Homo sapiens: one gene and its partner. The protein of the gene in region 1 purifies or fractionates together with the protein of each later gene. This does not show direct contact. Each region holds a gene or a part of one and is shown in the gene's direction. Other genes may lie near its edges.

The links.
Region 2: the proteins of RAB35 (region 1) and GDI1 purify together in Homo sapiens (affinity purification with mass spectrometry; 4 studies listed by BioGRID and IntAct, with this or other methods). This does not show direct contact.

The regions. Positions count from the first base shown.
Region 1 is NC_000012.12:120,106,516-120,113,799, reverse strand, and holds part of RAB35 (ras-related protein Rab-35), read left to right. Parts: intron 1-5,332; coding exon 5,333-5,383; intron 5,384-7,284. UniProt on the Homo sapiens protein: The small GTPases Rab are key regulators of intracellular membrane trafficking, from the formation of transport vesicles to their fusion with membranes.
Region 2 is NC_000023.11:154,439,870-154,443,967, forward strand, and holds the end of GDI1 (rab GDP dissociation inhibitor alpha), read left to right. Parts: intron 1-71; coding exon 72-270; intron 271-505; coding exon 506-637; intron 638-1,226; coding exon 1,227-1,326; intron 1,327-1,753; coding exon 1,754-1,925; intron 1,926-2,241; coding exon 2,242-2,386; intron 2,387-2,504; coding exon 2,505-2,559; intron 2,560-2,650; coding exon 2,651-2,803; 3' UTR 2,804-3,598; downstream 3,599-4,098. UniProt on the Homo sapiens protein: Regulates the GDP/GTP exchange reaction of most Rab proteins by inhibiting the dissociation of GDP from them, and the subsequent binding of GTP to them. Promotes the dissociation of GDP-bound Rab proteins from the membrane and inhibits their activation.

The DNA.
Region 1 (7,284 bases):
GTCGCCCAGGCTGGAGTGCAGTGGCGCGATCTCGGCTCACTGCCGGCTCCACCTCCCCGGTTCACGCCATTCTCCTGCCTCAGCCTCCCGAGTAGGTGGGACTACAGGTGCCCACCACCATGCCCGGCTAATCTTTTGTATTTTTAGTAGAGACAGGGTTTCACCATTTTAGCCAGTATGGTCTCTATCTCCTGACCTCGTGATCCGCCCGCCTCGGCCTCCCAAAGTGCTGGGATTACAGGCGTGAGCCACCGCGCCCGGCCAGTTCTGTATTTTCTATACTTTCCCTTATACTCTCTGACACTGGCTTTGATTTGTAACAGCATGTCGTCTGCATCCCTCAGGCCAGCCATCCTCATTTGGAGATGGAGTTAGCCCTTCACTTGACAGATGAGTAAATTGAGGCTCAGAGAGGGGGCGTGACTTGTGTGAGGTTATACAGTGAGGTGGTGGCTGAGGCAGGTTTAAAATTGAGAACATGGCTGGGGGCAGTAGTTTGTCCTAGTGCTTTGGGAGGATGAGGCGGGAGGAACACTTGAACTCGAGACCATAGTGAGAGCAACATAGTGATAGCGAGACCCCATCTCTTAAAAAAAAAAAAAAAAAAAGGCCGGGCACAGTGGCTCACACCTGTAATCCCAGCACTTTGGGAGGCCGAGGTGGGCAGATCACCTGAGGTCAGGAATTCGAGACCAGCCTGGCCAACATGGTGAAACCCTGTCCCTACTTAAAACACAAAAAATTAGTTGGGTGTGGTGGTACGCACCTGTAATCCCAGCTACTCGGGAGGCTGAGGCAGGAGAATCATTTGAACCCAGGAGGCGGATGTTGCAGTGAGCCGAGATCGTGCCACTGTACTCCAGCCTGGGGGACAAGAGCGAGACTTCATCTCAAAAAAAAAAAAAAAATCAGTTGGGCGTGGTGGTGCACATCTATAGTCCCAGCTATGTGGGAGGCTGAGACAGGAAGATTGTTTTAACCCAGGAGTTCAAAGTTACAGGGAGTTAGGATCACACAACTGCACTCCAGCCTGGGTGACAGAATGAGACACTGTCTCAAAAAAAAAAAAAGGTCCAGGCACGGTAGCTCACACCTGTAATCCCAGCACTTTGGGAGGCCGAGGTGGAGGATCACTTGAGCCCAAGAGTTTGAGACCAGCCTGGGCAACATAGGGAGGCCCTGTCTCAACAAAAAGAAGAAAATTAGCAGGGCATGGTGGTGCACGCCTGTGGTCTCAGCTACTTGGGAGGCTGAGGTGGGAGGATCTCTTGAGTCTGGGAGGTTGAGACTGCAATGAGCTATGATCACGCTGCTGCACTTTAGCCTGAGCAACAGAGCAAGATCCTGTTTCAAAAAAAAAAAAAAATATCGAGAACAGTTCACTGAAAGGTCAGGGCTCTTCAAGAGGTTGAACTGAAGCAGAGAGGAGTGAGGGGGCCATAGCCCAGGCAGGAGCAGGAGGAAGGGAAGACATGTGTGTGGCTTGCGTGGTGAGGACCAGATACAGCAGCCAGGGGTAAAAGGCCGGGAGCAGTAGCTCACTCCTATAATCCCAGCACTTTGGGAGGCCGAGGCAGGCGGATCACTTGAGGTCAGGAGCTCGAGACCAGCTTGGCCAATGTGGTGAAACCCTGTCCCTACAAACAATACAAAAAATTAGCTGGGCGTGATGGCGGGCGCCTGTAATCCCAGCTACTCCGGAGGCTGAGGCAAGAGAATCGCTTGAATCTGGGAGGTGGAGGTTGCAGCCAAGATCGCGCCACCGTACTCCAGCCTGGGCGACAGAGTGAGACTCCATTTAAAAAAAAAAAAAAAAGAATGACAGGCTGGACTGGTTGGGGTCATGCTGATGTGCCCTTGGGCAGCCTCGGGGGTGGCTGTGGTGAAGGTTGGTGGGTGCCCTCTGCTCCTGCCCTGACACTGATGGTGTGGGGTAATGGCTGCAGCTTGTGTTTCCGAGGAAGCCTCTTCCAGGGATATTTAGGAGGTAGTGTTTCTTGGGGTGGGTTTCTGTTCCTCTCAAAGGGAGAGCAGTGTCAGAGGTTGGTGTCAGGTCCAAAGCAGCAGATAATGTGGTGATGGTTGTGGTCTTTCTGCAGCCTAGTGGCTTTTTTTTTTTGAGATGGAGTCTCGCTCTGTCGCCCAGGCTGGAGTGCAGTGACACGATCTCAGTTCGCTGCAACCTCCGCCTCCTGGGTTCAGGCGATTCTCCTGCCTCAGCCTCCCGAGTAGCTGGGATTACAGGCACGCACCACCACGCCCGGCTAATTTTTGTATTTTTACTAGAGGTGGGGTGTTCATCATGTTGGCCAGGATGGTCTCGATCTCTTGACCTCGTGATCTGCCCACCTCGGCCTCCCAAAGTGCTGGGATTACGGGTGTGAGCCACTGCGCCTGGCCAGCCTAGTGGCTTTTAACTGCTCTGCCGAGACGCCTGGGGACAGTATGGGGACCTGGAGAGGCCAAGCTGGAGGGGATACTGCTGTGTCATTGCAGAGAGAGCTGTTTTACACATGGGATTTGGGTAAAGCTTGGATGAAGAAAAGGATTCTGCTGCCCTGCAGAAGTTTGGAAACCCCTGCTTAGGCGCCTGCTGTGCTGCAGTGGGAGCGCTGGATAGCAGAGCTGTCAGTGTGGCGGGCGTTCGTTTAGGCAGAAATTCATTAAGCAGTGTTTGGTTGGCACCTACTAAGTGCTGGGCCTGGCTTACAGCACTGTGAATGCACAGGGCGGGTGAGGCGAGGGCTCTGTCCTAGAGGAACTCCCAGACTCAAGCTTTTAGCTGAGTAAGCTGGACCCAGAAGGCTCCAGGAGGAAGCAGAGGAGGCGGCGAGGCCAGTGGGGTGCTGGTGTTGGGCACAGCGCCGTGAAGGACCCAACCCGGGACTCGGGCTCTCCTTGAGCTCAGCAGGAAGCCTCACGGCGGAGCAAGGAGGAAGTGGCCCTGAGCATGAGCCCTGCAGGCCCAGGCTGAGCAGCGTCTGCCTGCCCAGGAGAGCCTCACCCTGGCCTGTCTTTAGGAAAGTAGGACCCAGGCTTACTCAGTGAAACAAGTTCTTCTGGGCATCGTGGGGCAGCTCACTCACCAGGAGAAGCTCCCAGAAGAGATCTTTAGAGGATTGCCCAGAGAGGATGCTGGGGTTAGGCTTAGGGAAATACAACTGCGACAGTGGTTTTCCGCTTTGGTTACTTGGTAGAGTGCAGGTGGAGGCAGTGCCCTTCTTGAGAATCTATTAAAATTGTGGAGCCAAATGCAGTGGCTCAGGCCTGTTAGCCCAGCACCTTGGGAGGCAGAAGCGGGCAGATTGCTTGAGGCCAGGAGTTTGAGACCAGCCTGGGCAATATAGTGAGAGGCCATCTCTACAAAAAATTTTTAAAGAGTTTGCTGGGTGTGGTGGCGAACACCTGTAGTACTTGGGGATTTCAAGGTTAGAGTGAGTTATGATCGCACCACTGCCCTCCAGCCTGAGAGACAGAGTAAGGCCCTATCTCTCCAAAAAAAAAAAAAATGCTGTGGGCTTCTCCCATGAACAGACACCTAGGCTCAAATCTGCACTTTGTTTCAGGGGGTTTCATAGCTTTCGTGGCATTTTCATTAAAAATCTAACAGGAGTGAGATGTTGGAGCCCCCACAGGTCATTTTTTCCAAACTTCCTGAACCAGACGCAAGACTCCCAGCAATGTGTATTGGGAGGAGTGTTAGCACTCTGGAGGAGTCCGGCCTGGATGCAGATCTCAGCTTTACTGCTGCTCACAGAGGCACTTAGGCCGGCCACTCTGGGCCTGAGGTTCCTCATCTCAAGAGATGTGGCCAGAATTATAATCAAAGAGGCATCCAAGGGCTCACCACACACACAGCCCGATGCATGTGAATTCTTTGTGGTCAATTAACTTGGCTGGCCTCAGGGGTGTTGGAGATTGGGGACAGGATAGGAGGACATGGAACAGGTGTACTTGGCAGGCTGAAAGCACTGTGAGTTGAAGTCAAGGGGAGAGGTCCAGGCGCAGTGGCTCATGCCTGTAATCCCAGCGCTTTGGGAGGCCCAGGCGGGAGGGTTGCTTGAGGCCAGAAGTTTGAGACCAACTTGGGCAACATAGCAAGACCTCGTCTCTACAAAAGATTAAAAAAAAAAAAAAAAAAAGCCTGGGCAACGTAGCCAGACTCTGTCCCTACTAAAAATAAAAAAATTAGCTGGGCATGATGGTATGCACATGTGGTCCCAGCTACTCGGGAGGCTGAGGTCAGAGGATCACTTGAGCCTAGGAGTTGGAGGCTGTGGTGAGACATGATTGCACCATTGTACTCCAGCCTGAGTGACTGAATGAAACCCCATTTTTTTTTTTTTGAGACAGAGTTTCGCTCTTGTTGCCCAGGCTGGAGTGCAGTGGCATGATCTCAGCTCACTGCAACCTCCGCCTCCCGGGTTCAAGTGCTTCTCCTGCCTCAGTCTCCCGAGTAGCTGGGATTACAGGCATGTGCCACCACGCCCAGCTAATTTTGTATTTTTAGTAGAGACGGGGTTTCTCCATATTGGTCAGGCTGGTCTTGAACTCCCGACCTCAGGTGATCCGCCTGCCTCGGCCTCCCAAAGTGCTGGGATTACAGGCATGAGCCACCGCGCCTGGCCTGAAACCCCATTTCTTTACAAAAAAAGTGGGGGAGGCCAGATGTGTACATGTTTGTGCTCTAAGCAGCCAGGAGCTGCTGTGGCTGGTGCATGGTCTGAGCACATGTGGGCTGCTGCCCTGATGGGTATAAGGCAGACCCTCCACTCCACCAGCCCACCCGGCGGGGACATCAGCCAGAAAGATGGTAGCCATTGAGTTCTAGCTATGTGGGCCTTGGTTTCCTCACCTGCAAAATAGCCCTGATGATCTCAAGGGTCCTTTCCCGCTCTACAGCTCTTCATTTTGGGCGGCTCCCTAACTGATGTGCTACAACGTGCTGTGCACTTTTCTAGGGACCATGTTGTAGACGCACTTGGGGGCCGTTTCGTGTGGTTGACCTTCATTCTGCTTTGTCGTCTGGCATCTCCCTTTGGGCCAGCCCTCAGCCTAGGGCCTGGGCACCAGTCCCTTTCTCATCTCTCCCCCAGGGGATTTGGGAGCAGCTTGTCTTACACAAGGACGAAGGAAAAGGTCAGGGATCGAGTGGAAGAGATGTTCTTGGTGTGTGGCCGCTCAGGGAGGTGGAAAGAGCATTGAGAAGTGAGCTGGGTCCCACCGAGCTTCTTAAGAGTTGGGACTGAGGCATCCTCTCCCGGAAGAAGGGCTGGGGCTGCGGGGAGGGGACCCACCTGCCCCCCTCATCGCAGTGCTTTCTCTCTTGCAGGTGTGGGCAAGAGCAGTTTACTGTTGCGTTTTGCAGACAACACTTTCTCAGGTGAGTCCTCCCCTGCAGTGCTGCTGGGGTGTCGTTTTTGTTTGTTTGTTGACATCCCCTCCCTGGCACCAAACAGAGTTGCCTCTGCCTGATGTTGGGAACTGTCTCATTCTGGTTGCCAGAGGAGGGAAGAAGATGGAGTGGGGCTTAGGACCTTGTGGCGCTTCTGTCAGAAGCCTCTGTGGTCTGTCTAATGCACCTGCTCACGAAAACCCTTTGGCTGGCCCATCATTTTCCCACCCATGGTCCAAACAGGAAGGTTCCCATAACAGCGTCTATGGTGCCACCCGGGACACAGTCCCTGCTCCTGCCCCCTATGCCTCCCTGGCAGCCTGTGGTCAGCGTGTGTCTTTCTGATTTCTTTCTGCGCTCCACATGCAGGCCTTTGTGGTTCATCTGAGTGCGGTGGGCTTTCTGTGCTTGAAGGCACCACATGGTGCACTGACGCTGCTGTTACATCGTGCCTGACTTCTGGTTGTGTTTTCAGCGATGCTTAGCTACTTGGGATATAGGCGATATTTATTCTTTTTTTTTTTTTTTTTTTTTTTTTGAGATGGAGTCTTGCTCTGTCACCCAGGCTGGAGTGCAGTGGCGCGATTTCGGCTCACTGCAACCTCTGCCTCCTGGGTTCAAGCAATTCTCCTGTCTCAACCTCCCAAGTAGTTGGGACTATAGGCACCTGCCACCACGCCCGACTAATTTTTATATTTTTAATAGAGATGGGGTTTCACCATGTTGGTCAGGCTGGTCTCGAACGTCTGACCTCAGGTGATCCACCCACCTTGGCCTTCCAAAGTGCTGGGATTACAGGCGTGAGCCACTGCGCCCAGCTGATACTTATTCTTGTGCACGTGTTTCTGTAGAAGTGGGGTTACTGGCTTACAGGGTGTATGCACTGAGAATTTTCATAGGTACTGCCAACCTGCTTTTCAAAGAAGCTGGAGTCATTTAATCCAGTCCCACTGAAGGGTGGAAAGTGCCCCTTGTCAACCCTGGTCAGTGCTGGATCTTAGTAGCTGTCTTCATTCTTGCTGAGCTGATAGGCAAAAAGGGCTAACTTGTTTACATTTGTATTTCCCTAATCACTGGTAAGATGGAACACATTTTTGTTTGTTAAATACATCAGGTTCAGCCGGGTGCGGTGGCTCACACCTGTAATCCCAGCACTTTGGGAGGCCGAGGCGGGTGGATCATGAGGTCAGGAGTTCGAGACCAGCCTGACCAACATGGTGAAACCCCGTCTCTACTAAAAATACAAAAATTAGCTGGGCGTGGTGGTGCATACCTATAATCCTAGCGACTGGGGAGGCTGAGGCAGGAGAGTTGCTTGAATCCGGGAGAGGGAGGTTGCAGTGAGCTGAGATGGCACCACTGCACTCCAGCCTGAACGACAGAGCGAGACTCCATCTCAAAAAACAACAAAAAAAATCAGGTTCATTACAGATGCTTTGGGTGGGGTTGACATCTCTGATTATCTTGTGGAGAATTCCCTCTGACATGGCTGGGCTGCCTTTAGAAAGTGATTCCGTTGGCCAGGCGCGGTGGCTCACGCCTGTAATCCTAGCACTTTGGGAGGCCGAGGCGCGTGGATCATGAGGTCAGGAGATTGAGACCATCCTGGCCAATATGGTGAAACTCTGTCTCTACTAAAAATAAAAAAATGAGTTGGGTGTGGCGGCATGTGCCTGTAATCCCGGCTACTCAGGAGGCTGAGGCAGGAGAATCGCTTGAACCAGGGAGTTGGTTGCAGTGAGCCGAGATCTTGTCACAGCACTCCAGCCTGGCGACAGAGTGAGACTCCGTCTCAAAAAAAAAAAAAAAAAAAGAAAAAGAAAGTGATTCCATAGCTGATGTCTCTTGGTGGAGAAGTGGGTTTTGCCCCCTTTGTTTCCTTGACACTG
Region 2 (4,098 bases), on another chromosome or scaffold:
GTGCCTGCCCTGCTGGGATGGAGAGTTTTGTGCTGCATTGATGCAGAACCTCCTCCCGCCGCGTTCCTTAGATCTGATGGGCATGTTTGAGAAACGGCGCTTCCGCAAGTTCCTGGTGTTTGTGGCAAACTTCGATGAGAATGACCCCAAGACCTTTGAGGGCGTTGACCCCCAGACTACCAGCATGCGTGACGTCTACCGGAAGTTTGATCTGGGCCAGGATGTCATCGATTTCACTGGCCATGCCCTGGCGCTCTACCGCACTGATGAGTGAGGGGAAGCTGGGTGGTGGCAGCCCCCTCGCCCGGCCCGCCCCCACCCTTCCCACACCTGCCTGCTGTCCCCCTGCCCCGCATGTCTCTTGTACTCAGCCACAGGCTCACCTATCACCCTTTCCATTTCCCCCTTGCATTTGATCCTCATCTTCCCCAGGCCATTCAGGGTGGTGGGAAGACTGGCCTGGTACCTGGGTGGGGGTAAATCAGGGGTGCTGCTATTCCCCCAGCTACCTGGACCAGCCCTGCCTTGAGACCGTCAACCGCATCAAGTTGTACAGTGAGTCCCTGGCCCGGTATGGCAAGAGCCCATATTTATACCCGCTCTACGGCTTGGGCGAGCTGCCCCAGGGTTTTGCAAGGTGAGGACATGGGTTTTTTCAGTTGGCATAGCTGAGTAGGACTAGGGCCAGGAGTGGAGATGGCCGCCTTGAGCATTTTCTTGGTAGTATTTCCTCCTTTCCAATTCGTGCTCTTCATTTACTTCACTCCATCCTTGGGTGATGAGGGCACAACCCCAGTGCACTGAAGTACAGAAGTCTCCACACTTGAAAAAACGAGTCTCCACAAATGTGACTTGCTCAGTTCCCGGCAGCACCAGGACTGGGCCCAGGGTCCCAGAACCTTGAGTCAGGGCTTAGCTGGGAGCTGACCTATCTCCAGAGAGTCCATTCTGGTCCCTCAGGCTGTCTTGGTGCGGAGCACTGATCCCTCATGCCCCCTCCCGCTGGCCCTTGGCAGTGTATTCTGAGCAGAAGCTCCAGAGAGGAAAGAGCCCGCGGAGATGGGGCCAGCGTTCACGGCAGTGACAGAGCTGGGATGAATCCCGGCGTCTCCTACCTGCTGCCTGCCTGGGGCAGCCTTCTTTGCACTTTGGTGGAGGAAGGGTGCAGTGGAATTGGTCCCCGTTTCTCCTGGGAGGGGCCTTCACCGGAGCTGCTCTCACCACAGATTGAGTGCCATCTATGGGGGGACATATATGCTGAACAAACCTGTGGATGACATCATCATGGAGAACGGCAAGGTGGTGGGCGTGAAGTCTGAGGGAGAGGTGAGCCCTTCCCGTGCATGCAGTGCAGTCCCATGGTTGAGGCGGGGCTTGGTCACTTTCTCTGTGCTGTCGAGTCTCCTGCTGCACAGCCCCAAGGGTCTTGGAGCTGGGAACTGGGGGTCCAGAAGTCTTCAGAGTCATGACTGTGGGTGAGAGGTCTCTTTCAGAGGCCACATGCCATGTCTGTGGTGCAGAAAGTGTTCTTGATCACAGTGCCTCTGGGGGGCGGGGGGGCGGGCACCCAGCCCGTGCGTCAAGGCCCACCTATCTGAGCGGCAGGGTAGGGCCATGCATTCAGGAGGGGCAGTAGTGATGGCTCCGAGGAACGTCTTGTCTGCCAGAGCTGCCTGCCCTTGCTGTGAGCGCAGCCCCACGTCTACCTAAGGGAGGGATGTGACAGGGGCGAGGACTTCTGGTGCCTTCTCAGGTGGCCCGCTGCAAGCAGCTGATCTGTGACCCCAGCTACATCCCGGACCGTGTGCGGAAGGCTGGCCAGGTTATCCGCATCATCTGTATCCTTAGCCACCCCATCAAGAACACCAACGACGCCAACTCCTGCCAAATAATCATCCCCCAGAACCAGGTCAACAGGAAGTCAGGTAGGCCGGGCGCTGGTACAGCTTCCTCTAGGGTGTTCTCTTTGGGGTTACTCTTTTTCTCCCCATCAGTGTGGGAGCTCCCTGCCTTACCTCTCTGGAAAAAAATTTGAGCCACATTGTAGCCACCACAACTTGGAGCCCTAGGGTTTGGGTGGCCTGGACTCTTTCCCTCTGGGAGGGTGGCGGCTTGGATGCTACCTGCTCTGCGGGGCTGGGGAGGGGCAGTCGGGCCAGACTTGTGTCCAGCCACTGGAACCCCTCTCTGCGTATGGCCAGCGCCTCTGGCCTGAGTTGACGGAGCTCTTCCTGTGGCCAGACATCTACGTGTGCATGATCTCCTATGCACACAACGTGGCGGCCCAGGGCAAGTACATAGCTATTGCCAGCACTACTGTGGAGACCACGGACCCTGAAAAGGAGGTGGAGCCGGCTCTGGAGCTGTTGGAGCCCATTGACCAGAAGTGAGGGACTGGGCTGAGCCCAAGGGGGAGAGGGAGGGAGCCCAGCAGCTGGGCTTAGGGACCAGGAAGGGCATGGCCCATTGTGAGGCCTGTCCCCTCCCCTCTGTCTGCCCCTCAGGTTTGTGGCTATCAGTGACTTGTATGAGCCCATTGATGATGGTTGTGAGAGCCAGGTAAGCAGCTCGTCCCAGCCCTGGGCTCCTGGCTGCCCGCCCAGGATACCTGTCTGACTCACCCTGGGCGCTGGGCTCTGGCTGTTTCCAGGTGTTCTGTTCCTGCTCCTACGATGCCACCACACACTTTGAGACAACCTGCAACGACATCAAAGACATCTACAAACGCATGGCTGGCACGGCCTTTGACTTTGAGAACATGAAGCGCAAACAGAACGACGTCTTTGGAGAAGCTGAGCAGTGATTGTGGCCGCCCCCAGCCCCTGCTGCCCCAGCCTGTGTCTGTTCTCCTCGAGGGCTCCAGCATCCTCTGCTTCCCCCACCACGTTCCCATCACCCACCTCATTGATCCACTGACCAAATCCTTAACCCTAGCGATGGCTTGGGAGATGGGGGGTTGGATAGCATCCTCTTTCTTGGCCCTTCCTTATCCTAGGAAAAGAGGGTTCCTCTCCTTGTGTGTGTCTCTTCCCCCCACCCCTAATTCTTCTGCTCTGTTTGGGAAGACGTGGAGGAAAAGGTGACTTCTGCCCCCACCGCTCTTACCCCCACTGTAGTGGCCTTTGGAGATGCCCCCACCTCCCCCCCACCAACTCTCGCGTGTTGGAGAGAAGGGGCCCTCCCAGCACAAAGTTGCATTCCTCCCCCCTAATTTATTCTAATTTATTAACTTTGACCCACCCTTTCTGAGCCTGCAGCCTTCCCGTGTGGCCTGAGGGCTGTCGAGTGAGCTGCCCCAGCCCCTCCCAGCCCTTGCCCAGCCTGGGGGAGTGGGGAAGGCTTGGGCATGGCCCCGTTGGAGGTTGATTTGCTGTTTTGTTTCTTGTCTTTGTGTTCTGTGGTACTTGCTGAGAGAAAAGAAAAGTGAGCCAAGCAGAAGGAGGTGGGAAAACGGACCCAAACCCCAGTGTGCCCTGCCCCATGCCTTTCCTTTAGTGGTGGGAAACCCTTATCTTGCAAAGTGAATGTGTCCCCTTCCCCACCCTCTAGTGTATTTCACAGAAAACAAAACCTCCCAATAAAACGGTTGAAACCTGAATCTCTGGATCTTGATGGTTATCTCCCAAAAGCTGGGTACCTGGCAGGGCTTTGGCTGCCTGGGTTGGGGCTCTGGCTTAGCTTCACTCTGGACTGTAAAAGGTGGCATTCTTCACCAGGGAATTCCTCACCCAGAGCACGCTGGGGCCAAATTGACTTAAAGCTTAAGGCTACCCAGTGAGTCGATGCTGGCACCAGGACTGCAGCCCTCAGTGCTCAATGCAGGGGGAGTGTGGTGGAGGGCGGGTGTCAACGTGGAGGAAGCAGAGGGAGCGGGGGTCCTGGCCTCTGGCTTGAAAGGAGAGGGCAGAGGGGACCAGGGGCCAGCCTCGGATGGGATTCTAAGTGAAGCAGGGAGACGGGTGCCAGTTTTCGGCTTAATGCGGGGGAACTAGGGCAGCCAGGGGACCAGCGTTGGGGTCACCAGGAGGAATTAGAGGGACCGGGGCCCAGCCTTGGCTCGGGTTAACGTCGAGGCAGCGCGAGGGGCTGGGGAATTCA